Linked DNA regions of Homo sapiens. The protein of the gene in region 6 purifies or fractionates together with the protein of the main gene of each other region. This does not show direct contact. Each region holds a gene or a part of one and is shown on either strand. Other genes may lie near its edges. The genes, in order: SLC25A33, HIGD1A, POLD3, HADHA, HADHB, ATAD3A and AMBRA1.

Region 1 (3,500 bases), 8.0 Mb from region 6:
TGGAGTGCAATGGCAAGATCTCCGCTCACTGCAACCTCTGCCTCAGCCTCCTGAGTAGCTGGGATTACAGGCATGCACCACCATGCCCGGCTAATTTTTGTATTTTTAGTAGAGATGGGGTTTTGCCTTGTTGGCCTGGCTGGTCTCGAACTCCTGACCTCAGGTGATCCACCTGCCTCGGCCTCCCAAAGTGCTGAGGTTCAACTAATTTTATTAACCTTTATTGTGTTCTAGTTTTGTTTTTTTTTTTTTTTTTTTTTTTTGGGTTTTTTTTTTGTTTGAGACGGAGTCTTGCTCTGTCACTCAGGCTGGAGTGCAGTGGCACAATCGGCTCACTGCAGCCTCTGCCTCCTGGGTTCACGCCATTCTCCTGCCTCAGCCTCCCGAGTAGCTGGGACTACAGGCGCCTGCCACCACGCCCAGCTAATTTTTTTCTTTTTTTGTATTTTTAGTAGAGACAGGGTTTCACTGTGTTAGCCAGGATGGTCTCGATCTGCTGACCTCGTGATCCACCCACCTCAGCCTCCCAAAGTGCTGGGATTACAGGCGTGAGCCACCGCGCCCGGCACGTTCTAGTTTTAAAGAGAGAAAAGCTAAGCTTAGCATTCCATTGTGTAGGGAATAGTATAGCTTCTCTGATCTGCTTTGGTTTCCCTTACAGGTGTGGAGGCACAGTTGGTGCTATTTTCACTTGTCCACTAGAAGTCATTAAGACACGGTTGCAGTCTTCAAGATTAGCTCTCCGGACAGTCTACTATCCTCAGGTTCATCTGGGGACCATTAGTGGAGCTGGAATGGTGAGACCAACATCCGTGACACCTGGACTCTTTCAGGTTCTGAAGTAAGTTCAGTCTTGTCTGCTCCTGCCACCTGCACACCCTGTACCGCCACTGTCAACAGAGAATGTTCATCAAGCTTATCAAATGTGATGTTCTGTTTGCATAGCCTTGGTCCTAACTTAAGAATTAGATTTCTTTACCAATACCTTTGAGCTCTGACCTTGCTCCCCTGGCAGCGGGGGGTCCCAGTGTACATGTGACCATCATCCAGGGCAGTTAAAGTAAACCTAGCAAAGCAAACCAAAAATCCACGTGTAAATTGTTGCATCACATCATTGCTCTTGCTCAAAGCTTTTGAGGGAAATGAAGATAAGAGGTGATAGAGTAAAATTTTAAAAATTGCACAACAGAAGAGTTGTGAATATTTTATTTTATTTTATTTATTTACTTTTTTTGAGACAGAAGAATCTCGCTCTGTCACCCAAGCTGGAGTGCAATGGTGCGATCTTGGCTCGCTGCAGGTGATCTGCCCACCTTGGCCTCCCAAAGTGCTGGTATTACAGGCGTGAGCCACCGCTCCCAGCCGTGAATATTTTTAAAAGAAACAAAATGTTTGTTTGTTTGTTTGTTTTTGAGCTGGAGTTTTGCTCTCGTTGCCCAAACTGGAGTGCAATGGCACAATCTCAGCTCACCGCAACCTCTGCCTCCTGGATTCAAGCGATTCTCCTGCCTCAGCCTCCTGAGTAGCTGGGATTACAGACATGCGCCACCATGCCCGGCTAATTTTGTATTTTTCATAGAGATGGAGTTTCTCCATGTTGGCCAGGCTGGTCCCAAACTCCCAACCTCAGGTGATCCGCCTGCCTCAGCCTCCCAAAGTGCTGGGATTACAGGCGTGAGCCACCACACCAGCTTTTTTTTTGCTTTTTATTGGGAAATATTTTTAAATGTGTAGAAAAGTTATGTTTAATAAAATGGGCTTTAAAATTTGTTTTATACCTGAGCTACCTGCCCATTTTATTATTTTTACTGTAGAAAAAATAATTCATTTGCTTATAAAGTAGCCAAATATTCTTAAGTCAAATTTGGCTTATCAGTCTATGCATAAGGTAAAATCAAATTCAGAAGAGAACTGATTGAATATCTGATTTTTAGCTCAGGACCTTGTACTTTGAGATGCTCTATAATTAATAGTTGAATTTAACTGAGCATGATATTCAAATCTTTGAAACTGATTCTTGGGCAAGAGTATGTTCAAGAAAGACATTCATCAAGAAAGCTATCAGTGTAGAGATTTATTTGGGAAATGTTAGAAAAAGAAGTAATAAAATGGAGATGCTCTGTTTTAAAAACAACGCATTTAGCACTTTTTTTTTTTTTTTTTTTTTTTTTGAGATGGAGTCTCACTCTGTCGCCCAGGCTGGAGTGCAGTGGTGCGATCTCCACTTACTGCAAGCTCCGCCTCCTGGGTTCACGCCATTCTCCTGCCTCAGCCTCCTGAGTAGCTGGGACTGCAGGTGCCCGCCATCACACCCAGCTAATTTTTTTGTATTTTTAGTAGAGACGGGGTTTCACCATGTTAGCCAGGATGGTCTCGATTTCCTGACCTCGTGATCCGCCCACCTTGACCTCCCAAAGTGTTGGGATTACAGGCGTGAGCCACCGCACCCAGCCACATTTAGCACTTTTAGGCACAATTTAGATAAGGCAGGATGAGTTGGAGAGTGCTTAGTTTATTTTTAGGTATGTTTTATTTGTAAAACCCAACTATGAGTCACTGGGGCATTCATGCCAAATGTGTGCAAAGGTACATCTGAGCTTACTGAGCGAAACTGAACAGCAAGACCAGATGCCAGGGACAAGTGAGAGCATCAGAAGCCCAGCGAGGGAACAGGGAGATTGGTGTCCAAGACTCCAGGAGAAATTGGGGTTTTTGTTTGTTTGTTTGTTTTCTTTTTTGAGACAGATTCTCACTCTGTCACCCAAGCTGGAGTGCAGTGGTACGATCTCTGCTCACTGAGACCTCTGCCTCCTCGGTTCAAGCGATTCTTCTGCCTCAGCTTCCCGAGTAGCTGGGATCACAGGCATGCACCACGATGCCTGGCTAATTTTTGTATTTTTGGTAGAGACAGAGTTTTACCATGTTGGCCAGGCTGGCCTTGAACTCCTGACCTCAGGAGATCTGCCTGCCTTGGCCTCCCGAAGTACTGGGATTATGGGCATGAGCCACTGTGTCTGGGTGAGAATCAGGTTTTTAAATTAAATGCTAAGAAAAGGAGTGGAGACACTGGGCAGGAAAGTTGGGGGTGGGTACAGGAGGGACAGAAGCACAGAGATGTGGAGGGACACTTTGCTCTCAGGACAGATCCGAGTCCATGGCCCCCATCAAGATGGGACTGTGAGAACACTCCTCCTGCTTTGCCTTTTCACATGCTTAGGCGGTGCCAGTGTCCCGGGTGACACCTTTCTTCTAAGGAACATGCAGTGCTTTGGACATAAGGAAACTGAAGACAGGTAATGTTACTTCAGTAACATTCAAAATGAATTTCCTCTTGCCAAATAATCATGACTAGTGAATTTGGATTTACTGTAACTGGGGAACTGTTACCCAAAAGTGTGGGTGTCAATAGGGCCAACCTGGAAGGTAAATGGGAATGTTTCTCCATTTTAGGTTTTACAGGATATGTGGGTTGAGTGTCCCTTATCTGAAATGCTTGGGAC
Region 2 (3,500 bases), on a different chromosome or scaffold from region 6:
CCGGGCGGCTGGCCGGGCGGGGGGCTGACCCCCCCACCTCCCTCCCGGATGGCACGGCTGGCCGGGCGGGGGGCTGACCCCCCACCTCCCTCCCGGATGGGGCGGCTGGCCGGGCGGGGGGCTGACCCCCCCTCACCTCCCTCCCGGACGGGGTGGCTGCCGGGCGGAGATGCTCCTCACTTCCCAGATGGGGTGGCTGCTGGGCGGAGAGGCTCCTCACTTCTCAGACGGGGCAGCTGCCGGGCGGAGGGGCTCCTCACTTCTCAGACGGGGTGGTTGCCAGGCAGAGGGTCTCCTCACTTCTCAGACGGGGCGGCCGGGCAGAGACGCTCCTCACCTCCCAGACGGGGTCTCGGCCGGGCAGAGGCGCTCCTCACATCCCAGATGGGGCGGTGGGGCAGAGGCGCTCCCCACATCTCAGACGATGGGCGGCCGGGCAGAGACGCTCCTCACTTCCTAGATGTGATGGCGGCTGGGAAGAGGCGCTCCTCACTTCCTAGATGGGATGGCGGCCGGGCGGAGACGCTCCTCACTTCCCAGACTGGGCGGCCGGGCAGAGGGGCTCCTCACATCCCAGACGATGGGCGGCCAGGCAGAGACACTCCTCACTTCCCAGACGGGGTGGCGGCCGGGCAGAGGCTGCAATCTCGGCACTTTGGGAGGCCAAGGCAGGCGGCTGGGAGGTGGAGGTTGTAGTGAGCCGAGATCACGCCACTGCACTCCAGCCTGGGCACCACTGAGCACTGAGTGAACGAGACTCCGTCTGCAATCCCGGCACCTCGGGAGGCCGAGGTTGGCGGATCACTCGCGGTTAGGGGCTGGAGACCGGCCCGGCCAACACAGCGAAACCCCGTCTCCACCAAAACCAGTCAGGCGTGGCGGCGCGTGCCTGCAATCGCAGGCACTCGGCAGGCTGAGGCAGGAGAATCAGGCAGGGAGGTTGCAGTGAGCCGAGATGGCAGCAGTACAGTCCAGCTTCGGCTCCGCATGAGAGGGAGACCGTGGGGAGAGGGAGACGGAGACGGAGACGGAGACGGAGACGGAGAAGGAGGGAGAGGGAGAGGGAGACGGAGAGGGAGACGGAGAGGGAGAGGGAGAGGGAGAGGGACGGAAGTTATAAGATTCTAACCCTCCCTAAAATGCTCCTAAGATCAGTGCTTGAGATATTTTGCAGACCCTGCACTTGATAGACCAACTGGCACCACCCAGATCAATAAACTGGCTCGTCTGATCTTATGTCCCCTACCTAGGAACTGACTCAGCACAAGAGGACAGCTTCAACTTCCCATTTCATCTCCAACCCAACCAATCAGCACTCTGTTCTCTGGCCTTCCCCCACCCACCAAATTATCCTTAAAAACTGATCCCTGAATGCTCCAAGAGACTGATTTGACTAATAATAAAAATCCTGGTCTCCCACACAGCTGGCTTTGGGTGAATTGCTCTTTCTCTATTGCAATTCCCCTGTCTTGGTAAATCAGCTCTGTCTAGCCAGCGGGCAAGGTGAACCTGTTTGGCGGTTACATGATTTCTCTTTTTTTTTTAAAAAAAAAAACAACAACTAATTTTTGAACGATTAATTACTTTAGTGTTTATATTGTATTATTCAGATATATAGTGAGTATCTTGAACCTTGAGCTTATTGAACCTTATATATAATAAAGCTCATTACTTAGGAGTTTATTCAGTTAAGAAGTAATGGAGTACAAAAAGAAGGTTTAAGTCCAATCTAAATTTTCTTTTATTTAGCTAAGATTTTCTTCTATGTCAGATGACAGTTGAGTCTTCTCAATGAAGGTGAGGCTTATAGGGATGAATTCACTTTCTAAACTAAGCACACCACCCCCTCCGGAGTTGCATTTTTGTTGAGGACCTTAACTGCCACTGACTCCCCTTGAGTAGCAAGGTGTTGAATGAGAGGTACTTTTATCAAAGGGAGCATAATGCACATGAAAAACCCAGAAGTGAAAGTAAGATTTTATATGGGTGTTAGGATGGGCATAGACTTTTAAGTTTATTGTAATTGACACTAATTAGAGACTTGTATGCTTACACTATGCTTCAGGCCCTTATTTTATCTGTGAGTAAAGTTTATTGCAATTCAAAATAGTTCAGTGAAGAAAGTATACTTTGTTATTGTGGCTAAAATGAAATAGCATTTGTTAATGCCTCATTGTGATAAAAGGGCTATTCACGGAGATGACTGAAAAGGAGGAAAGGAGCCTTTGATCCCTGTGATAATGAAAATGAATCCTTTTTTTTTTTTTCCTATCCCCTTACTCATACACTATCAGGCTAGATCTTGCCTTTGGGATACCATTTAAAGGAATTATAAAAAGAGGGTAGAGTTTTAAAAGGAAGCCTAGGGGATATAAGGTATGTAAATGAAGGCAGATCTGAAGCTTAGAAGATATTAAGAAGACCCTGAGGGTAATTCAGTTTTGTGCTGCAGTGATGTTAAAAGGTGCTAATCATAGGGCCAGGTGTGGTAGCTCATGCCTGTAATCCCAACACTGGGAGGCAGGTGGATCACCTGAGGTCAGGAGTTCGAGACCAGCCTGGTCAAGATGGTGAAACCCCATCTCTACTAAAAATACAAAAAAAATTAGCCAGGCATGGTGGCAGGCACTTCTAATCCCAGGTATTTGGGAGGCTGAGGCAGGAGAATCACTTGAACCTGGGAGGCAGAGGTTGCAGTGAACCAAGACTACGCCATTGCACTCCAGCCTGGGCAACAAGAACGAAACTCCATCTCAAAAAAAAAAAAAAAAGCTAATCATAAGCTGGCACAGTGGCTCACACCTGTAATCCCAGCAGTTTGGGAGGCTGAGGTGGGTGGATCACGTGAGGTCAGGAGTGAAACCCTGTCTCTACTAAAGAATACAAAAAAATTAGGCACGGTGGTGTGTGCCAAATGGAGGTTGCAGTGAGCCGAGATCGTGCCACTGCACTCCACCCTGGGCAACAGAGCAAGACTCAGTCTCAAAAAAGAAAAAAAACTAATCATAGGTCATTAAAAAAATCTAAAAGGCTATGAAGGAGACATTTCTACCAATATTTAAAATAAAAGCTTTGTTCTTAAAATGAGTAAATAATGAGCTAGGTAGAAACTTTGGCTATTCAGAATAATCTTTTCCCCAGAGGCAACCACCATGGATAACAGATTACTGTAATAGACTGGAAACTAATCTGAAGTGAAAATTGAAGCAAGGAAGCACATTGGAATAAATAAATCAGCAGTTGAAAGCAATAAAGACTGCATTTAACTACACCGAAAAGTGCTAAGTAGGATTTCCAACATGATATTGAAGGTTCAATAGGAGTTGTCAGTTTGGTTTGAGTAACTTAAAATTGTCAAGTTAAATAGTTGATTAAGGATGAAGATAGCCAGAAAATTAGTAGCTACTATTTTAATTGATAAAAGTAACATCAATTTAAAATTTTTCACTATTTTTAATTAACATGGTGCTAAAAATGAATGGGTTGTACAGGGGAAACGG
Region 3 (3,500 bases), on a different chromosome or scaffold from region 6:
TAGCCTCAGGCAGCCCTTAGGAGATATTTCAAAAGAAGGCATTGTTATCATAAGAGATGACAGCTTCATGTGTGTTACTGCCCCTGAAGAAGACCTTCCAGTGGGACAAAATGTGGAGGTGGAAGACAATGATCATTGATGATCCTGACCCTGTGTAGGCCGAGGCTAATGTGTGTTTGGGTCTTAGCTTTCAACAAAAAAAGTTTAAAAAGTAAATAAAAAATTTTTAAAATAGAAAAAGGCCTATAGAATAGGGATATAAAGAAGAAAATATTTTTGTACAGCTGTACAATTTTTTGTGTTTTAAGCTGTGTTATTACAAAAGAGCCAAAAAGTTATAAAATTGAAAATACAGTTAAAGTAAGCTGTTTATTATTGAAGAAAGAAAAACATTTTAAAATAAATTTAGTGTTGCCTGAGTATCCAGTGTTGATAAAGTCTACAGTAGTGTACAGTAACATCCTAGGGCCTTCACATTTCACTCACCGCTCACTCACTGACTCAGCCAGAGCAACTTTCAGTACTGAAAGCCCCATTCGTGGTAAGTGCCCTATACATGTGTACCATTTTTAATCTTTTTTATACAGTATTTTTACTGTATCTTTTCTCTTTTTAGATGTTTAAATACACAAATACCGTTGTGTTACAGTTGCCTACAGTATTGAGTACAGTAACAATGATGTACAGGTTTGTAGCCTAGGAGCATAGACTATACCATCTAGGTTTGTGTGAGTATACTCTGTGATGTTCACACAGTGAAGTCACCTAACAATGCATTTCTCAAAATATGTCCCTGTCATTAAGTGATCCATGACCGCAGTTGGGAGAAGTTTCCTCTGTTTTCTGAAGGAGTTTATATATACGTGTATATTTTTCAAATGTTTAATAAAATTTACCAGTGAATCCAGGGCTGGATTTTATTTGTGGGAAAGGTTTTTATTGTGAATTTGATTTAACTAGAGCTGTTCAAATTCTCTAGTTCTTCTTGGATCAGTTTTGACTGAGTTGTGTTTTTAAAACTCAGTCAAAATTTGATCTAAATTGTTGAGTTTATTGGCATAAACCCGTTCATTATATAACTTTATTCTTCGAGTTTGTAGAACCTGTACTCGATACAGATTTCTTTACTGTTTCATTCCTGATTGATAATTTATATTTTTCTGTTTTCAAAATGGGTTTTATAAAAGGCTTATTAATAAAATTAATCTCCCAAAAATAACAACTTTGGCTTTGTTAATTTTCTCTTATTTTTTATCTCACTGATTTCTGCTCTTATCTTTATTGTTTCCTTTTACTTTGGGTTTAATTGTTCTTTTTCTAGTTCAAGGTAGAAAGGAAAGTTGGTATTTAAAGTTATATAGGACATAAGGTACTTGATGGCAAAGATTATGTCTTGTATATATTTGTTTCTCTAACATTCAGTAGGCCTTTGATAAATTACTTGTTGGTTGCATGAGGAGTGTGATGGAGTATCCATTCATCCAGAGGAGCTAAATAATGTCATGATGGAGTCTAGGATTTTTTTTATTATTATTATGTCATTAGAATCACCTTAAAAGGATATCTCTGCCTTTGCTCATATTGTTCTTTCTCTTTAAAATATGTTTCCCCTTTCTACATGATGAACTTCTACTTAGCTTTTAAGTTTTCCAAATATGAATTATATTCCATAACATTTTATTTGTCCAGTTAAATCTACCACATTGCCTTATAGCCAGTGGTGTTTGCCAGAGCTTCTTGAAAACAGTATTTTCTTCTGTATTGTTGCATTCTCAATGGCTAGCAAAGAGCCTTGTATGTATGTAGTAGCTGCTTATTTAATGCTTGTTGGATAATTGAAAGGCCAATCAGGGAAGTAAGAAGGAATTTGGAAAGATTCTTGATAACCTGGTTGTAGCTTCCAGCAGTCTCTAGAGAACTCTAGAACTTTTTTATTCAAGTCACCTCATGAAGTGACTTAGTTGTGGTCAGTTAGCAGAGTATCCTTAACAAGAGTCCTTCTTGGACTATTTGGCCGTCCTTTTCTACCCTCTGGAATTAAGACCACGAGTTATAAAGCAAAACCCATAAGAGCATGTGAATACTTACATTTTTGTTCTGTGTAACACGCTTAATTTATTTCTGGATGGCAACAGGGGGAAGCGAGTAGCATTATCTGATGATGAGACAAAGGAAACTGAAAACATGAGGAAAAAGAGGAGAAGAATCAAACTTCCTGAATCTGATAGCAGTGAAGATGAAGGTGGGCATTACCATTCATTTTGGGTTAGGGGGATCAATTTTACTTTCAATGTTCAAGGAGCTAAAAAAGTAATGGATTAAGGATCACAATGAGAGTAGTAATTCTAGCATTAAGAGACACCATAGCACCTCTTTCTGTTTGAAATCTGCATTAGCCTTTTGACTAGAACCATGATCTTTTGGAAATTTGTCAAAATAACACAGAAGGAAAGAGGATAAGAATTATTATTATACATATTATCTAAGACTTTTTCTTTTCTTTTCTTTTTTTTTTTTACTTTTAAGGGGAGGATATTCCTTTAGCTACCTTCATGTGAATCTTTTAAAAATTGTGACGTTCTAGGCAGCCAGGGTATTACTGGTGGTGGTCCACACAGGTAAAACTAGGGTTAACTGGAACAACCTACAGTGTCATTGTTAGAAGGGAATGACACTGTGGACCCTTCTAGTTTTAGGCTGTGGGCAATGTTGTAAGATAAGCAAACCTCATAAGGGCAAGAGTTTTACCGGGAACATTAATATGCTTTTAAAAAAATATCAAGTATTTTGAAGAGCCAAGATCTTGCCCCAAATTGTATAAAGTATATAGAAAAAGAAGGAGGCTAAAAAGAAAGTTAAATGGGTTGAACTGATATGCTGGACGACTCTACCTTGAAAAGCCCACTTTGAGACACAGTGGTGAAAAGTTTGAACTGCTCTAATCAATTGTCCATGAATTCATGGCATAATGGGTATAAAACATTTTAAGTAATGAGGGGAAATCTAGTCCAAAGGATTTCAGCATCACATAAAGATACAGAGACAAACACGAACAGATACTAAAAGGGAGAGTAAAGAAGAATAATGAATGCAAAAAAGGAACCTACTGAGCTATCAAAGGACAAACTTGTAAGATTCTGAAACTTGTAAGATTCTGCTTTTTCCAGAAACTACTCTAAGAGGAATTGAAAATGGTAAGAGAGGCTTCCGAAAAAAGGATATTAGCTCAACTATACAAGTGAGTGAAAAAAAAACAAATTATATATACAGTTGACAGTAATGCAAAAGAAATGAACAGACCCAAGAAATAGTAGCAGGAAGCTGAATCTGTGATAAAGGTGTAGCATCTTTGACACTTCTGTGGATTTAGATTCTACCATTCATGCTATGTGTTTAGAATTACAGCCTGTGATATCCTGTGAGAGGTACAATGTCCTTCCGTGGGTTTTAGTGGCTCTTTAGAATGGGTAGGAGTAAGACACGTGAGCATCCCAGAGAGG
Region 4 (3,500 bases), on a different chromosome or scaffold from region 6:
GTCACCCAGCCTGGAGTGCAATGGTGCGCTCTTGGCTCACTGCAACCTCCGCCTCCCGGGTTCAAGTGATTCTCCTGTCTCAGCCTCCAGAGTAGCTGGGATTACAGGCTCCTGCCACCACGCCCAGCTAACTTTTTTTTTGTTTTTTTTTTTTTGTTGTTGTTGTTGTATTTTTAGTAGAGACGGGGTTTCGCCATGTCAGCCAGGCTGGTCTCTAACTCCCGACCTCAGGTGATCCAGCCACCTCAGCCTCCCAAAGTGCTGGGATTACAGGCGTGAGCCACCGCGCCCGGCCATAGATTGTGTATTTTTAAATTTGATTCTCACTTCCTTAATCTCGTCGCTTCTCCCAGTGTTGAATCTTGAGAAAAGCTGTTGATTATTACAACCAAAGTAATGTTTTCAAATTTGAAATTTATGTTAGCATAATCCAGCTCTCTTCGCTGACTGTAGTCTTATGAGGTTTTGTAGTTATTCTTGGGTTACATTACAAAGATGATTAAAAAGTGGGGCAAAGGTTTCTCTCTACTTTGCTGGCACAGTAGATGTAGGCTAAAGTTCACTCAGCTGCCATAGGGTAAGCTCTGCAGTTAGGTAGTGAGTAAGGCTAGACTCCAAAAGCAAAGCTACCTTGCAGTGTGACTTGATTTGGTTGACTCTGGTTTGGAATTATTTTCGAAGTATGTTCATGTATATACTGGTTTTCTATTTGTTTCTATTTGTCTTGATCTTGGAGAGGTTTTGTGTATGAGTGTGTGGGCAGCATAGGTAGGTTAGTGGACAGGAGTTAAAATGGTTTAAACTGTTGGCTAATGACCACTAACCTGTTATCTCAAATATTTGATCTTTAAAACTGCAACCCAGTGGGGCATAGTGGCACATGCCTGTAATCCTAGCTACTCCGGAAGATTACTTGAGCCCAGGAGTTCAAGACCAGCCTGGGCAACATAGGGAGACCTCGTCTCAAAGAAAAAAAATGTTTTTGAAATATTGCAACCCATGCTCACTCTATTTCCTTTTTTTGCTTAGGTGCTTATTTTCTAACATATTTGTGTTTCTTGGTTTTTCCCTCTCAACCTGCATTCCCAATCAGTTCATTCCCACTCTAATCCACTTTACCCTGTTTTGCTAGAATTACCTATCCCCTTCTTCCCTTCCCACTGGAATTTCTACTTTGCAGGAAAACTTTTTCTATGCCAGGCCTATTTTCACTTTTCATTTATCTTCACTGAGTAGGAACTGATTCTTCCCAGATATCATATCCCCTGCTGACCTGGAATGTAAGCTCCACCAAGACAGGGATTTTTGTCTTTTTTGTTCACCCTGAATGTCCTGCTGTACTCCAAGTGCCTAGAACAGTGAATGGCACATGGAGGTCACAATATATGTTTTTGTTGAATGAATAACAGATTATGTTGGAAAAGATTACAATGTGGTTGGTGAAACACCTGCTACAGATGCAGCAGTTAGAGGACAGAACATTAAATAATAAAATAAAAATGCAGGCAAGGAAAGGAAGGATCACTGTAGACAGAATCCGAAGATGAGGTTTTGTGGAAAAGAGTGGAGTCATGATGCAAATATAAAGAAGGAAGAGTGGTAAATACAGATGACACAGATTTCAAATGATGGAAAAGCAAAGCAGGAAACATACTATTAGTCAAGTAGAGGCACTGGGGATTGAGGAGATGGCTGGCTTCTCCCATCTTAAAACACTGAAGTTCACTTGTAAGAGACTTGTTCACAGTCACACAGCTAGTAAATAAACCTGATGGTTGAACACAAGTCCTTTGCCTTTGCACTAAGTCGGCTGGCTTGGATTGCTTAAAGAAGAAATGCAGGCAGAACCTGAAATCACCCCATTCTGCTTCTGGTGCTAACCACAGTTTTCTTTCTTTTTTTTTTTTTAATGTGTCACCTTGCCTTTCCAACCAGTATAAAGCTGCTATTTTTTGTGCCTTCTCTTCCCTTTCCATAAGGAACTGGGGGATAAAGAGAAAATACGGAGGCAGCAAGAGCCTTGGCAACCTACTGATGATCCTCCCCTATTCCACTCCACCTTCACTGGGTTCTCCAGTCAGTAGTTCCCATGTGCCTCTTACATTGCTATCTCTTTGGTTCTCTTTGCTTCCCTCTTCCCTTTTGTGATTACACTGGGCCCACCTGGATAATCCATGATAAACTTTCTTTATTAAGGCCAACTGATTAGCAACTTTAATCCCCCCTTTGCCGTGTAACCTAACATATTCACAGGTTCTGGGGATGTATATCCCTTTGTGGGGGCCAGTCTTCCTCTTTTAGTATCCAAATAATCATCTGACCTAACAACTGAAATGGAAAAAATATGGCAGTAGTCATATGGCCTAGAATACATTGTACAGATTTGGGGTTTTTGTTGTTGTTATTATTGTAAATTACAGCTTTGTTATATATAAAAGGTACTACAGAAATTGTTTCGCAAATTAATTTTGAAATGTCTTTTCTTACAGGTTATATATGCCGCAATTTTACAGGGTCTTCTGCTTTGCTGAGTAAGTTTAATTTCTTTTTAATGTGTATGCTTACATTGCTTTTTGGATTTATGTTGCAATAAATATGTTTACAAATAAATCTTTCTTTTCTTTTTAGCCAGAACCCATATTAACTATGGAGTCAAAGGGGATGTGGCAGTTGTTCGAATTAACTCTCCCAATTCAAAGGTATCTCATTTAATTTGCAGTTTTTTTCTGCTAACCGCATTATGAATCTAGTCCTGAATGGGAAAGATGTATCCCATATTTCCCCAAATCTACCAATCTGGCAGTAATCTTACATGAATTTACAGTTTTGACAGTTATGTTAAACTTTGACAGATTGCCAAGGGAGCCAGTTTTCTAAAGCAGAGGTTCTTGCGTAAGAATTCCTCTTGTTGACCTTAGGTGCCACCAGCCTCCTGGTTATAGTGTAGAATGAGGAGGTGACTTATTAGAGAAGAACCAGAGTACAAGCTTTGTTTATAAGACTCAAAATTTGCCTACCCATCTTAAATATGAGGTTGTTAATCCATTTTCTTCATTACTTGCCTGACATAAGTCACTATTCATAGTAAGTTGGCTGAGTGAAATGTGGATACTTGGCTCTTAAGCTTCCTGAGGGATCTGAATGACTCAATGCAATTCACATATTGGAAATCAAGTTCTGTTCGAATTGAAACTTCTTTTGTTTTTGGCAGCTTCAATAAAGTGTGTAACAGTAATCCATTCTTTTGCCAAGAAGAGCTTTATTGTGAGAGTCCATGCTTTTCCCCCATCTAAATTTGGTGTATTCTTACTTTAAAAATCTTGTAGCCAGGCTGGGCACTGTGGCTCACACCTATAATCCCAACACTGGATGGCCGAGGCAGGAGGATCACTTCAGCCCAGGAGTTTGAGACCACCCTGGGCAACATAGCAAGACCTTGTCTCTATAAAAAATAAAAAATAGTTGGGTATGGTGATGTTCACCTGTAGTGCTAGCTACTC
Region 5 (3,500 bases), on a different chromosome or scaffold from region 6:
CAAACAAATCATCTCTGATTTCTTTATTTTATTACCAAAGCTCACCTCTCTATTTTTTTACCTAGGGATTTTATGTATGTGTCTCAGGATCCAAAAGATCAACTATTACTTGGGTAGGTAGCAGTTTGTATCCTTGGACTATAATCACAAGTATTTGATTGCCTATGTTTTATTATACTGGTTAATAAATGATTAACACTGGTTTATTATTTATTTGTTTATTACACTGGTTTGAGAGTATATTAAGCCCTGAGTTCATAATTGGTTTATGTGGTGGTTTTTTTAAAAAAAATAATAGTAATCTGGCCGGGCACGGTGGCTCACGCCTGTAATCCCAGCACTTTGGGAGGCCGAGGTGGGCAGACCACGAGGTCAGGAGATTGAGACCATCCTGGCTAACACGGTGAAGCCCTATCTCTACTAAAAATACAAAAAATTAGCCAGGCGTGGTGGCGGGCGCCTGTAGTCCCAGCTACTCGGGAGGTTTTGGCAAGAGAATGGCATGAACCCGAGAGGCAGAGCTTGCAGTGAGCCAAGATCACGCCACTGCACTCCAGCCTGGGCGACAGAGCGAGACTCCATCTCAAAAAAATAAATAAATAAATAAAATAGTAGTAATCCTTTCCATTGGTATATCATGTTACAGTTTTGGATTATTTTCCATTTTTTTCCTATAAGTTTTACATATATATATGGACACACACAACTTATATTCTTTTTCATTAAGATAGCATATGCATTTTTTCATATGGCTACACACCCTGCTACACAATCTTCCTAATATAGCCTTTTATAAAAGCCTCCCCATGTTTAGACTCTGTTCCGTTCCCTCACAAGGCTGTAGCCTCTAGCCTCCACTGTGACGTTCACATCAGTCAAGCCCTTTCCCTTGCCTTGCTCTTTGAACTCTGTTCTTCCAGTTCTTCATGTTATTAGCTTGTCCTTATCCCTCACTGTTTATTTATTATCAATTTCTCTGACTCTGCAACATAAGAGTAGAGGGCATGTCTGTACAGTTTCACTATTTTATCTTTAACATTTCATTAATCAGTACAGAAAAATCAAAGAATGAGTGAAAAGACATTAGAGTACCTATGTAAAACTCAGTTTGGGGAATATGAAGGAGCTCTTAGTTTAAAAATTAAAGTTTTAAGATATTACTTATTTTTTCTTTGCAGACCAACATATGCTACTCCAAAAGTTCTAGAAAAGGCAGGATTGACCATGAATGATATTGATGCTTTTGAATTTCATGAAGCTTTCTCGGTAAGTAATTTGAAAGACACATATGAAGGGACTATAGTCATAAAAAATGTCATCCATATTTGTGGGAGAGAGCAAGGCATGGTTTATGATGTGAGTAGAGCAGGAGTGGACCTGCATATTTTAAGTACTGATTCACACTGCTGGGAGGGGCCCGAGGGGAGGGAAGCAAGGGCCACACATACAGTGTTGGAGAACATACCAAATTGCTTCTTTAGGAAATTGCCATTGAAAACTGATACAAAGATTTGTTCAACTTTACTTTTTTTTTTTTTTTTGGAGACAGAGTCTTGCTCTGTTGCCCCAGCTGGAGTGTAGTGGCACGATCTCGGCTCACTGCAACCTCCGCCTTCCAGGTTCAAGCAATTTTCTTGTCTCAGCCTCCCGAGTAGCTGGGACAAGCAGGCGCCTGCCACCATGCCCGACTAATTTTTTTTATATTTTTAATAGAGACAGGGTTTCACCATATTGGTCAGGCTGGTCTTGAACTCCTGACCTCAGATGATCCACCCGCCTTGGCCTCCCAAAGTGCTGGGATTACAGATGTGAGCCACTGTGCCTGGCCGATTTGTTCAACTTTAAACCATACCTAAAGTTGTTAAACTTTCACAAACCATTCCTATAAGAAAGCGTAGAGGAACATGAATAACGAGGTTCTTATTCGATTATTTTCTCTTCCAGGGTCAGATTTTGGCAAATTTTAAAGCCATGGATTCTGATTGGTTTGCAGAAAACTACATGGGTAGAAAAACCAAGGTGAGTTTCTAATTTTAAAAAATGCGTGAATTTTCAAAGCACGTTAATAATTGGATCTTAGTTACCTGTTCTTAAGAATATGAAGGGAAAGCTTCTCTTTCTTTTGAAGAATTTTGTCTTTCATTAAAGATATTTATTTCTTAGTGTAAAAGTAGAAATTCTTGTATTTCATTAAATATATTTATTTCTTAGTTTAAAAATAGAAATTATTTAGCAAAAATAAAATTCTGTGTTTTTTGTTCCTTGCATTCTGACATTAGATGAAAAATAAATGGACTCCTGACTTTTAATATTGACCTAGACTTACTTTCTTTTGCAGTAAAATTATTTGTAATATGTCTGACGTTACGTATTTTCCTCTATCTCTCTTACTTCGTAGTACTAAGAGCCTAGCTTGATTCTGATCTTAAGTAAACTTATCTTTACATTTGTGTCTTTGGGGGAGCCAGGTTGGATTGCCTCCTTTGGAGAAGTTTAATAACTGGGGTGGATCTCTGTCCCTGGGACACCCATTTGGAGCCACTGGCTGCAGGTTGGTCATGGCTGCTGCCAACAGATTACGGAAAGAAGGAGGCCAGTATGGCTTAGTGGCTGCGTGTGCAGCTGGAGGGCAGGTACGTTACAGTGGTGTCATAGGACCCTCCAGAGAGTCATTTTCTTGGAATGACTAGAATGTATGATTTAGTTTGAAACCTTCTTAAAGCAATATTTTTGATGACCTGGGGGTGGGGAGTGGGGAGGGATAACAGCTGTAATTCTGATAAAACTTTTTGTTTTTTGGGTTTTTTTTTTTTTTTTTTGAGACAGTCTTGCTCTGTCACCCAGGTTGGAATGCAGTGGTAATATCTTAGCTCACTGCAACCTCCACTTCCCGGATTCAGGTGATTCTCGTGCCTCAGCCTCCCGAGCAGTTGAGATTACAGGTGTGCACCACCATGTCCAGTTAATTTTTGTATTTTTAGTAGAGACAGAGTTTCGCCATGTTGGCCAGGCTAGTCTCGAATTGCCGACTTCAAGTGATCCACCCTCCTTGGCCTCCCAAAGTGCTGTGATTACAGGCATGAGCCACCATGCCCTGCCATAATTCTGATAATTCTTTGGAAGGAAACAGCTATTTAAACCCAAGCTATTTTTCCCCAATATAATGTTTATTTTTTACTTATAAATATATGCTGATTATGAAAATTGTGGAATATATGAAAAGTATATAGAAAAAGTTAGAATCATCTATAATCTCCCCATCAGACATTAACATTATTAACATCTTGATATATTTTCTTCTTTAATAATTAACTTTTATTTATCTAGTCACCATAAGACTTTATAAAATCTCTCCAAGAGAGAAACTATCTTTCTAGAGAACTGAATTATACCTTAACTGGGGAGTTAATTTACTTCTGGATAACTTACTGCTGTTCAGCTGGGGAAATATATTGTTGACAGATTTTTTCCTTTCTACTTCACTTGCATTAGAGACCCAA
Region 6 (3,500 bases):
GCCGGAAGACAGGCAGCGAGGCCGACACCCACGCCAAACATCCTCTTTGGAGGGGCTCTCTACTTCTGACAGCCCAGCTCCACATCCTCCCTGCTGCAGGCCAGGCCCGGACTGAGCAGGGAGTGGCTGCAGGGCCTGGAGATGGCCCCAACCACTCCTCACACCAGCCCTGCCCACAGCTGCTCACTCAGCACCCGCAGGGCAGGTGGCCTTTATGCTGGCAGTGGCGGAGCCCCGACTTCTAGCAAAAGCGTCTGCCTGGAGGCCACAGAAGCCAAGTCATGGTGCCAGGGCTACGAGCAGCCATGGGGGTGGGGGAGCCCAGGGAAGGGGAGGGCATAGGGAAACTGAGGCCCGGAAAGCTGGGCTGGCATGGAGCAGGCGGCAGCGGCAACCAGGCTCTCTTTTGTCATCACTGGCGACAGCAGGGATTTGGGTCAGGTGCACAGAAGGACTCAGAAACCGGGGCCCGGGGGACGCCAAGAAGTGGAGCAGCCTCTGCTCATCTGGAGTGTTCCCGAGGCAGCCGGTGTGTGGTGCCAGGGCCCCTCATCACCTGGAGGGCTCTGCCCACCGTGCCTGCTGCACCCACCGCCAGCAACAGGGAGCCTGACAGCCTCAAGGCACGTGAGCAGCAAGAGCCGTGCCCCACACCACGAGGCTCCAGGGCCGGGTGTGGCAGCTGGAGGGAGGCCAGGCCAGAAGCCAGCAGTGGACCATGAGGAGCCTCTCCCTCCAGTCCCGACACGGGGGTCTCATGAGGAGAGACTCCTTCGAATCCCGACACGGGGGTCTCAGAGCAACACTCCGTATCACCTCCCCTCACAGCCAGGGCCTGGGGGTGGCCGAGCACAAGATTTCCTCACAGCCCTCCTCGTAGTGAAGAGGAATGGAAAAGACGCCGGGCGCGGTGGCTCACATCTGTAATCCCTGCACTTTGGGAGGCTGAGGAGAGTGAATCACTTGAGGTCAGGAGTTTGAGACGAACCTGGCCAACATGGTAAAACCCCATTTCTACTAAAAATTAAAAAAAAATTAGCCAGGCATGGTGGTGGGCGCCTGTAATCTCAGCTACTCAGGAGGCTGAGGCAAGAGGATTGTTTGAACCCGGGAGGCAGAGGTTGCAGTCAGCTGAGATCGTGTCACTGCACTCCAGCCTGGGCGACAAGAATGAGACTTTGTCTCAAAAAAAAAAAAAAAAAAGGAATGTTAAAGGTTTGTAAGTGATGGTGGACTGTGGGTCGGGGTGGACCCTGAGCGAGGGCCCCTGGACGGGGGCTGGTGGGGCGGGACACTTACTGCTTTCCTTCTGTGGCCGGCTTAAGAACATACTTGTCAAAATACATTCTCACCAGGCGCTCCCGTTCCTCCTGCCCTGGCAGGTCGAAGTGGACCATCTCATTGATGCGGTCATTGATGGCCCAGTCGAACTGCTCTGGTTGGTTGCTGGCCAGGACCAGCATGAACCTGCGGGGCGGGGATGAGGATGAGGATGCTGGGGCTGCCGGCCGAGCTGCACCAAGGGGAACGGGGCCTCCTCAGCCCCCACAGGGAGAACCTAAAGTGGCGGGAAACACGAGGACACGGGCACAGCCCTGGTCGGCCACCTGCCCCACTGCACCCAGCTGTCCCCCGGCCTGGCTTCCTGGGCCTCTGTTCTCCCTCCATATAGTGCTTTCCCGCTGACCCTCGCCCAGCCTGATAGGCAGTGCCGGGAACACCACTCTCTCCTGCTGCCTGACCCCTGCTGTGCTGGGAGCAGGGATTCGGGACCCGGAGTCCATGTCGAGAAGTCGCCCACACGTGCCAGGAGCAGGACCTCAGGGGCCCGGGTTCACTGGAGGCTCAGCAGGGCCCCAGCCTTGCCTCTCTGGGAAGGACCCGAGTCAGGGCTCCAGGGAGCATCCACCGGCAGCAGCTGACCTGGGAGCCCAACGTGCCTGAGGAGTCAGCCACGGCCGACCAGCAGGACTTGATCCTCCGTGTGACACGTGACTGGGGCTGGAGGGGCCCAGGAGACCAAGAAAACTCAAAATTAGGGGACTTGGGAGGGACTAGGGAGCCTGGCCATGGGGCGGTCACCCTATGGGGGACCTCTGGGCGGCAGCCCACAGAGGCCACACAAAGTCGGGTGGGCCCCAAGCCTGGAGGGTGCACCCTTGGCCAGCATCCGGGCGGGGGACCAAGGTCCCAGGTTCCGCCCCGACACACAGGACCTGCTGGTGTCCAACTTCCCGTGGGAGCAAACTTGTCTCCATCTCCCACCCCAGGGCACACACACCCTCCAAGGGAGACCCAGCAGAGCCTCACACGATGAGACCACCTCCCTTGCAGGCACAGGACCGCAGAAACCTAGGGGCAGAGGGACCTGCAAGCTGGGGCGGCGGCGCACAGGGCCGTGAGGACAGGACTGACCCCAGCTCTGCCCGGGAGGCCCCCGCATGTTCCTCAGTGACACCCCGTGCTGTCCCGAGCTGGGCCGTTCCCAGGGGACATCCGAGGTGGGCATGTTGAGGCCACGGCAGCTGCCCAGCACTGTGAGCCAGGGCCCCTCAGGTCCCTCGGTGGGAACCAAGGGCGACGGCTGCACAGCCCTGCCCGGGGGCCCAGGACCCGAGGGGCTCCCTCACTTGTTGCTGTGCTGGCCCGTGCGGTACAGGAAGGCGTTCAGTGTGGCCCTGAGGTCCTCGCTTATCTTCTCCTGCAGAGAGAAGGTTCCAGCCTTAGGCACCAGGAGCAAAGCCTTGTAAACAGCCACAGCAGAAAGTCCCACAGGCCTCCCTCCTGCAGGGAGCAGGGACATGGCGACACTTTCATGGATCTACTCTCAAAAGCCTGACCAGGGCCAGGGGCGGTGGCTCACGAATGTAACCTGGATTTTGGGAGGCTGAGGCGGGCAGATCACACGAGGTAAGGAGTTTGAGACCATCCTGGCCAACATGGTGAGACCCCGTCTCTACTAAAAATACAAAAATTAGCCAGGCGTGGTGGCGCACCTGTAGTCCCAGCTACGTGGGAGGCTGAGGCACGAGAATCACTGAAACCTGGGAGGCAGAGGTTGTAGTGAGCTGAAATTGCACCGCTGCACTCCAGCGTGGGCAACAGAGTAAAATTCTGCCTTAAAAAAAAAAAAAAGAAAAAGAAAAGAAAGCCTGACCGGGCACGGGGGCTCACATCTGTAATCCCAGCACTTCAGAACGTCAAGGGAGGCAAATCTCTTTAGCTCAGAAGTTTGAGCCCAGTCTGGGCAACGTGAGGAAACTCCATCTCTACTAAAATTACAAAAAAATTAGACAGGTATTCCACTGTGCCCCTGCAGTCCCAGCTACTCAGGCGGCTGAGGCAGGAGGATTGCTTGAGCTCCAGAGGTCGAGGCAACAGTGAGCTGTGATCGCCCCTGCACTCCAGCCTGGGCGACAGAGACCCTGTCTTAGAATGATAATTAAAAGGCTGGGCGTGGTGGCTCACGCCTGTAATCCCAGCACTTTGGGAGGCCAAGG
Region 7 (3,500 bases), on a different chromosome or scaffold from region 6:
AAAGGTACTCCTAAATAATCTTTTTTTTTTTGAGATGGAGTCTTGCTCTGTCGCCCAGGCACTGGAGTGCAATGGCACTATCTCAGCTCTCTGCAACTTCTGCGTCCTGGGTTCAAGCAATTCTCCTGCTTCAGTCTGATGAGTAGCTGGGATTACAGGTGCCTGCCACCACACCCGGCTAATTTTTGTATTTTAGTAGAGACGGGGTTTCACCATGTTGGCCAGGCTGTCTCAAACTCCTGACCTCAAGCAATCCAATCTCCTTGGCTTCCCAAAGTTCGGGGATTACAGGCGTGAGCCACTGTGCTTGGCCTGATCCTTTCTTTAGCTACAAGGTTGAGCTATGGAGAATATGAGAGTATGAAATATTTTTGGAAGAAAAATTCTGGGAGGAAGGGTCTTTTCTGAGAAAGTGTCATTAAATAGGAAAAGTATAATTTCCCTTTTGAGCTAGAATTGTATTTGCAATTAGAAGCTTCTCGTTGCAGAAGTCGTTCTTTGACATTATTCTTTGTTCCTTAAGATTTCCATGAGGACAACTTACAAGGACCTGTATGGCCTCATTTTAGCTGCTTCAGTGTGTTGGAGCTGTTACTTGCTCCTTCATTTCCTGGGCCTGGTGTGACAGTGGCTACTGAGCGCCATGAAGGTTGTCCCAGAAAAGAATGCTGTCCGGATACTCTGGGGGCGAGAACGGGGTGCTCGGGCCATGGGAGCTCAGCGGCTTCTGCAGGAGCTGGTAGAAGATAAAACCCGGTGGATGAAATGGGAGGGCAAGGTAAGGAAAATGGCTATATTTCACATAGGATTTGTGCTGGTGATGGTAGAATGAGACCTTAGAATGGGTTAACAGCAGAGAGTTGGGATATATTTATCTTGTGTGGGAGAGTTGACATATCTGACTTAGGGAGTTGTTTGTAAATTTGAAAGAACTAATGTGCTAGAAATATCTTTTTCCTTTAGAGCTAGACAGTTTTCCTGAAGGTAATTTAGGTTTATCTCTCTCAATTTGTAGCTTGATCATTGTCTCCAGTTTTTAAGCCTACACTGTGAATGCTAATCTAGAATGGTTAATGTGCTTTTGAGATACGGTGAACCATGGTCTACAAATCATGTATTTTAACTTTTTTTTTTTTTTTGTCTCCCAGAGAGTAGAACTGCCGGATAGTCCACGCTCTACCTTCTTATTGGCCTTCAGCCCAGACAGGTACTCAGTATTTATCTATAACTTAAGATTTGTGATAACAGTGCTTTCTGTATATTTGGCCTGGCTTGATCTTCCAAGTCAGTCCCTAAAGTCTCTCTGAAGTACTGTATGAACAGCACTTTGGCCCCGTGTCGGAAAGGGAAAGAAAGTAGATGAGCAGTGCTAACCTGAAAAATCATGAGAACAAGCAAAGGAAACTGAGAGGATCAAAACTTGGAAAGTTTCTCAATAACAATCATTTGCCTGTGTGATACAGCTCACCAGTGGTATGATGGTTTTTCCAGTGGGAAAAAATATTTTCCGAATGTGGCATGTGTCATTTGGGGACAGTGTGGACAAGCCAAAAGCTTTTAAAGATCAGAATATTTCTGTTTGTAGATATACTGCCTAACATACAAAGCTTAGTTTCTTTCATGTTGGGATTGGCAGGTAGCATCAATATTCTATGTCGTCCAAAGTTGATAAGATTGGTTACCCTTCCACATGCTTCTGAATTCAGTTCTACTCTTTGATTTTCTAGGACTCTCTTAGCCTCCACCCATGTGAACCATAATATCTATATTACGGAGGTGAAGACTGGCAAGTGTGTTCATTCCCTGATTGGACACCGCCGTACTCCATGGTGTGTCACTTTTCATCCCACCATCTCAGGCCTTATTGCTTCTGGCTGCCTAGATGGGGAGGTTAGGATTTGGGATTTACACGTGAGTATTTCCTTAAGATACCCTTTTCTTTTGGTGTTCTAATTTTTTTTTTTTGAGACGGAGTCTCGCTCTGTTGCCCAGTGGTGTGATCTTGGCTCGCTGCAACCTCCGTCTCCCAGGTTCAAGTGATACTTCTGCTTCAGCCTCCCAAGTAGCTGGGATTACAGGCATGTGCCATCATGCCTGGCTCATTTTTGTGTTTTTAGTAGAGACGGGGATTCACTATGTTGGCCAGGCTGATCTTGAACTCCTGACCTCAAGTGGTCTGCCTGCCTCGGCCTCCCAAAGTGCTGGGATTACAGGCATGAGCCACCATGCCCGGCTTCTTTTGGTATTCTAAATGCAGAGACTTGTTTACCATTGGTTTTTTAATTCTGGAAGAGCCTAGCCAGATTCTTAGGACTACATCTGAATATATTGTTGTAGACATTGCCCACTTAATTAATAGGAAGTCTAATTCCCTGTCTTCCATTCCTTTTTTTTTTTTTTGCAATAGCTTAAGCATGCCCTGAGATTGTCTTCCATTCTTGCTAAGATGAACATCTACTTTTGCTTCCTTCAGCCCGTTGTGACATAGTACAGGAGGCTCTAAGATATGTTCAGGTTGGATTTCTGTTGTCTTAGGGCATCTTTGCCTAAGTACAGATATTCCTGTACTCCGATCATGATCATCAAAGCAAGATCCTCTTTGTCCTAGTAACTGGCTAGCGGGTTGTCTTGCACCATGTTGTGCACCGAGCTTGAGTTTTTCTCAGGCTTTGCATGGAACTGTGGGCTGGGCGCGGTGGCTCACGCCTGTATTCCTAGCACTTCAGGAGACCAAGACAGGAGGATTGCTTGAGTTCAGGAGTTTGAGACCAGCCTGGGCAGGATATTATACCAAAAATATTATACACAAAATTATATAAAATTAGCTGAGCATGGTGCCATGCGCCTGTGGTCCCAGCTACTTGGGAGGCTGAGGTGCGAGGATTGCTTGAGCCTAGGAGGCAGAGGTTGCAGTGTGCTGAGATTGTGCCACTGCACTCCAGCCTGGGTGACAGAATGAAACCCCCTGTCAAAAAAAAAAAAAAAAAAAAGAAATAGGAACTGTGTATATATGCTTAATGCTTGTAGATTGTGACTAATTTGAAGAACTGAACTGATTGTATAGTATTTATCTGATAAATTAGTGGCACTACCAGATCGCTGATCTTCTACATCTTTTTACAGAGGATGTATTTAAAGTAGTCCCTAGACATAGTCATTTTACCTTAAATGGACCTTTCTTGAAATTGACTTCCCAGTGTGCTGGTAGCTTGTAACCTGAGAATATCTGGAATTGGTTCATTCACAGGGTGGCAGTGAAAGCTGGTTCACAGATAGCAACAATGCCATTGCCTCCCTGGCTTTCCACCCTACGGCTCAGCTCCTGCTGATTGCCACTGCCAATGAGATCCACTTCTGGGACTGGAGTCGACGGGAACCCTTTGCTGTGGTGAAGACAGCTAGTGAGATGGAACGGGTCCGGTGAGTGCGCTGCCCCATCTGCATTGTCTGGCACAGGACTGACGTGATAGAGAACATTCTACTGGCTGTCACCTTGGAAG

Evidence for each region.
Region 1: the proteins of ATAD3A (region 6) and SLC25A33 purify together in Homo sapiens (tandem affinity purification; one large-scale study listed by IntAct). This does not show direct contact.
Region 2: the proteins of ATAD3A (region 6) and HIGD1A purify together in Homo sapiens (tandem affinity purification; one large-scale study listed by IntAct). This does not show direct contact.
Region 3: the proteins of ATAD3A (region 6) and POLD3 purify together in Homo sapiens (tandem affinity purification; one large-scale study listed by IntAct). This does not show direct contact.
Region 4: the proteins of ATAD3A (region 6) and HADHA purify together in Homo sapiens (tandem affinity purification; one large-scale study listed by IntAct). This does not show direct contact.
Region 5: the proteins of ATAD3A (region 6) and HADHB purify together in Homo sapiens (tandem affinity purification; one large-scale study listed by IntAct). This does not show direct contact.
Region 7: the proteins of ATAD3A (region 6) and AMBRA1 purify together in Homo sapiens (affinity purification with western blotting; 2 studies listed by BioGRID, with this or other methods). This does not show direct contact.

The regions. Positions count from the first base shown.
Region 1 is NC_000001.11:9,552,965-9,556,464, forward strand, and holds part of SLC25A33 (solute carrier family 25 member 33), read left to right. Parts: intron 1-661; coding exon 662-841; intron 842-3,500. UniProt on the Homo sapiens protein: Mitochondrial transporter that imports/exports pyrimidine nucleotides into and from mitochondria. Selectively transports uridine, thymidine, guanosine, cytosine and inosine (deoxy)nucleoside di- and triphosphates by an antiport mechanism.
Region 2 is NC_000003.12:42,794,491-42,797,990, reverse strand, and holds part of HIGD1A (HIG1 domain family member 1A, mitochondrial), read left to right. Parts: intron 1-3,500. UniProt on the Homo sapiens protein: Proposed subunit of cytochrome c oxidase (COX, complex IV), which is the terminal component of the mitochondrial respiratory chain that catalyzes the reduction of oxygen to water. May play a role in the assembly of respiratory supercomplexes.
Region 3 is NC_000011.10:74,627,082-74,630,581, forward strand, and holds part of POLD3 (DNA polymerase delta subunit 3), read left to right. Parts: intron 1-2,133; coding exon of another isoform or gene 2,134-2,135; coding exon 2,136-2,242; intron 2,243-3,500. UniProt on the Homo sapiens protein: Accessory component of both the DNA polymerase delta complex and the DNA polymerase zeta complex.
Region 4 is NC_000002.12:26,238,133-26,241,632, reverse strand, and holds part of HADHA (trifunctional enzyme subunit alpha, mitochondrial precursor), read left to right. Parts: intron 1-2,489; coding exon 2,490-2,531; intron 2,532-2,628; coding exon 2,629-2,699; intron 2,700-3,500. UniProt on the Homo sapiens protein: Mitochondrial trifunctional enzyme catalyzes the last three of the four reactions of the mitochondrial beta-oxidation pathway.
Region 5 is NC_000002.12:26,282,939-26,286,438, forward strand, and holds part of HADHB (trifunctional enzyme subunit beta, mitochondrial isoform 1 precursor), read left to right. Parts: intron 1-65; coding exon 66-113; intron 114-1,178; coding exon 1,179-1,266; intron 1,267-1,944; coding exon 1,945-2,019; intron 2,020-2,468; coding exon 2,469-2,633; intron 2,634-3,500. UniProt on the Homo sapiens protein: Mitochondrial trifunctional enzyme catalyzes the last three of the four reactions of the mitochondrial beta-oxidation pathway.
Region 6 is NC_000001.11:1,525,662-1,529,161, reverse strand, and holds part of ATAD3A (ATPase family AAA domain-containing protein 3A), read right to left. Parts: intron 2,702-3,500; coding exon 2,631-2,701; intron 2,002-2,630; coding exon of another isoform or gene 1,887-2,001; exon of another isoform or gene 1,480-1,886; intron 1,468-1,479; coding exon 1,300-1,467; intron 1-1,299. UniProt on the Homo sapiens protein: Essential for mitochondrial network organization, mitochondrial metabolism and cell growth at organism and cellular level. May play an important role in mitochondrial protein synthesis. May also participate in mitochondrial DNA replication.
Region 7 is NC_000011.10:46,545,524-46,549,023, reverse strand, and holds part of AMBRA1 (activating molecule in BECN1-regulated autophagy protein 1), read left to right. Parts: intron 1-523; 5' UTR 524-643; coding exon 644-778; intron 779-1,148; coding exon 1,149-1,207; intron 1,208-1,727; coding exon 1,728-1,911; intron 1,912-3,247; coding exon 3,248-3,420; intron 3,421-3,500. UniProt on the Homo sapiens protein: Substrate-recognition component of a DCX (DDB1-CUL4-X-box) E3 ubiquitin-protein ligase complex involved in cell cycle control and autophagy.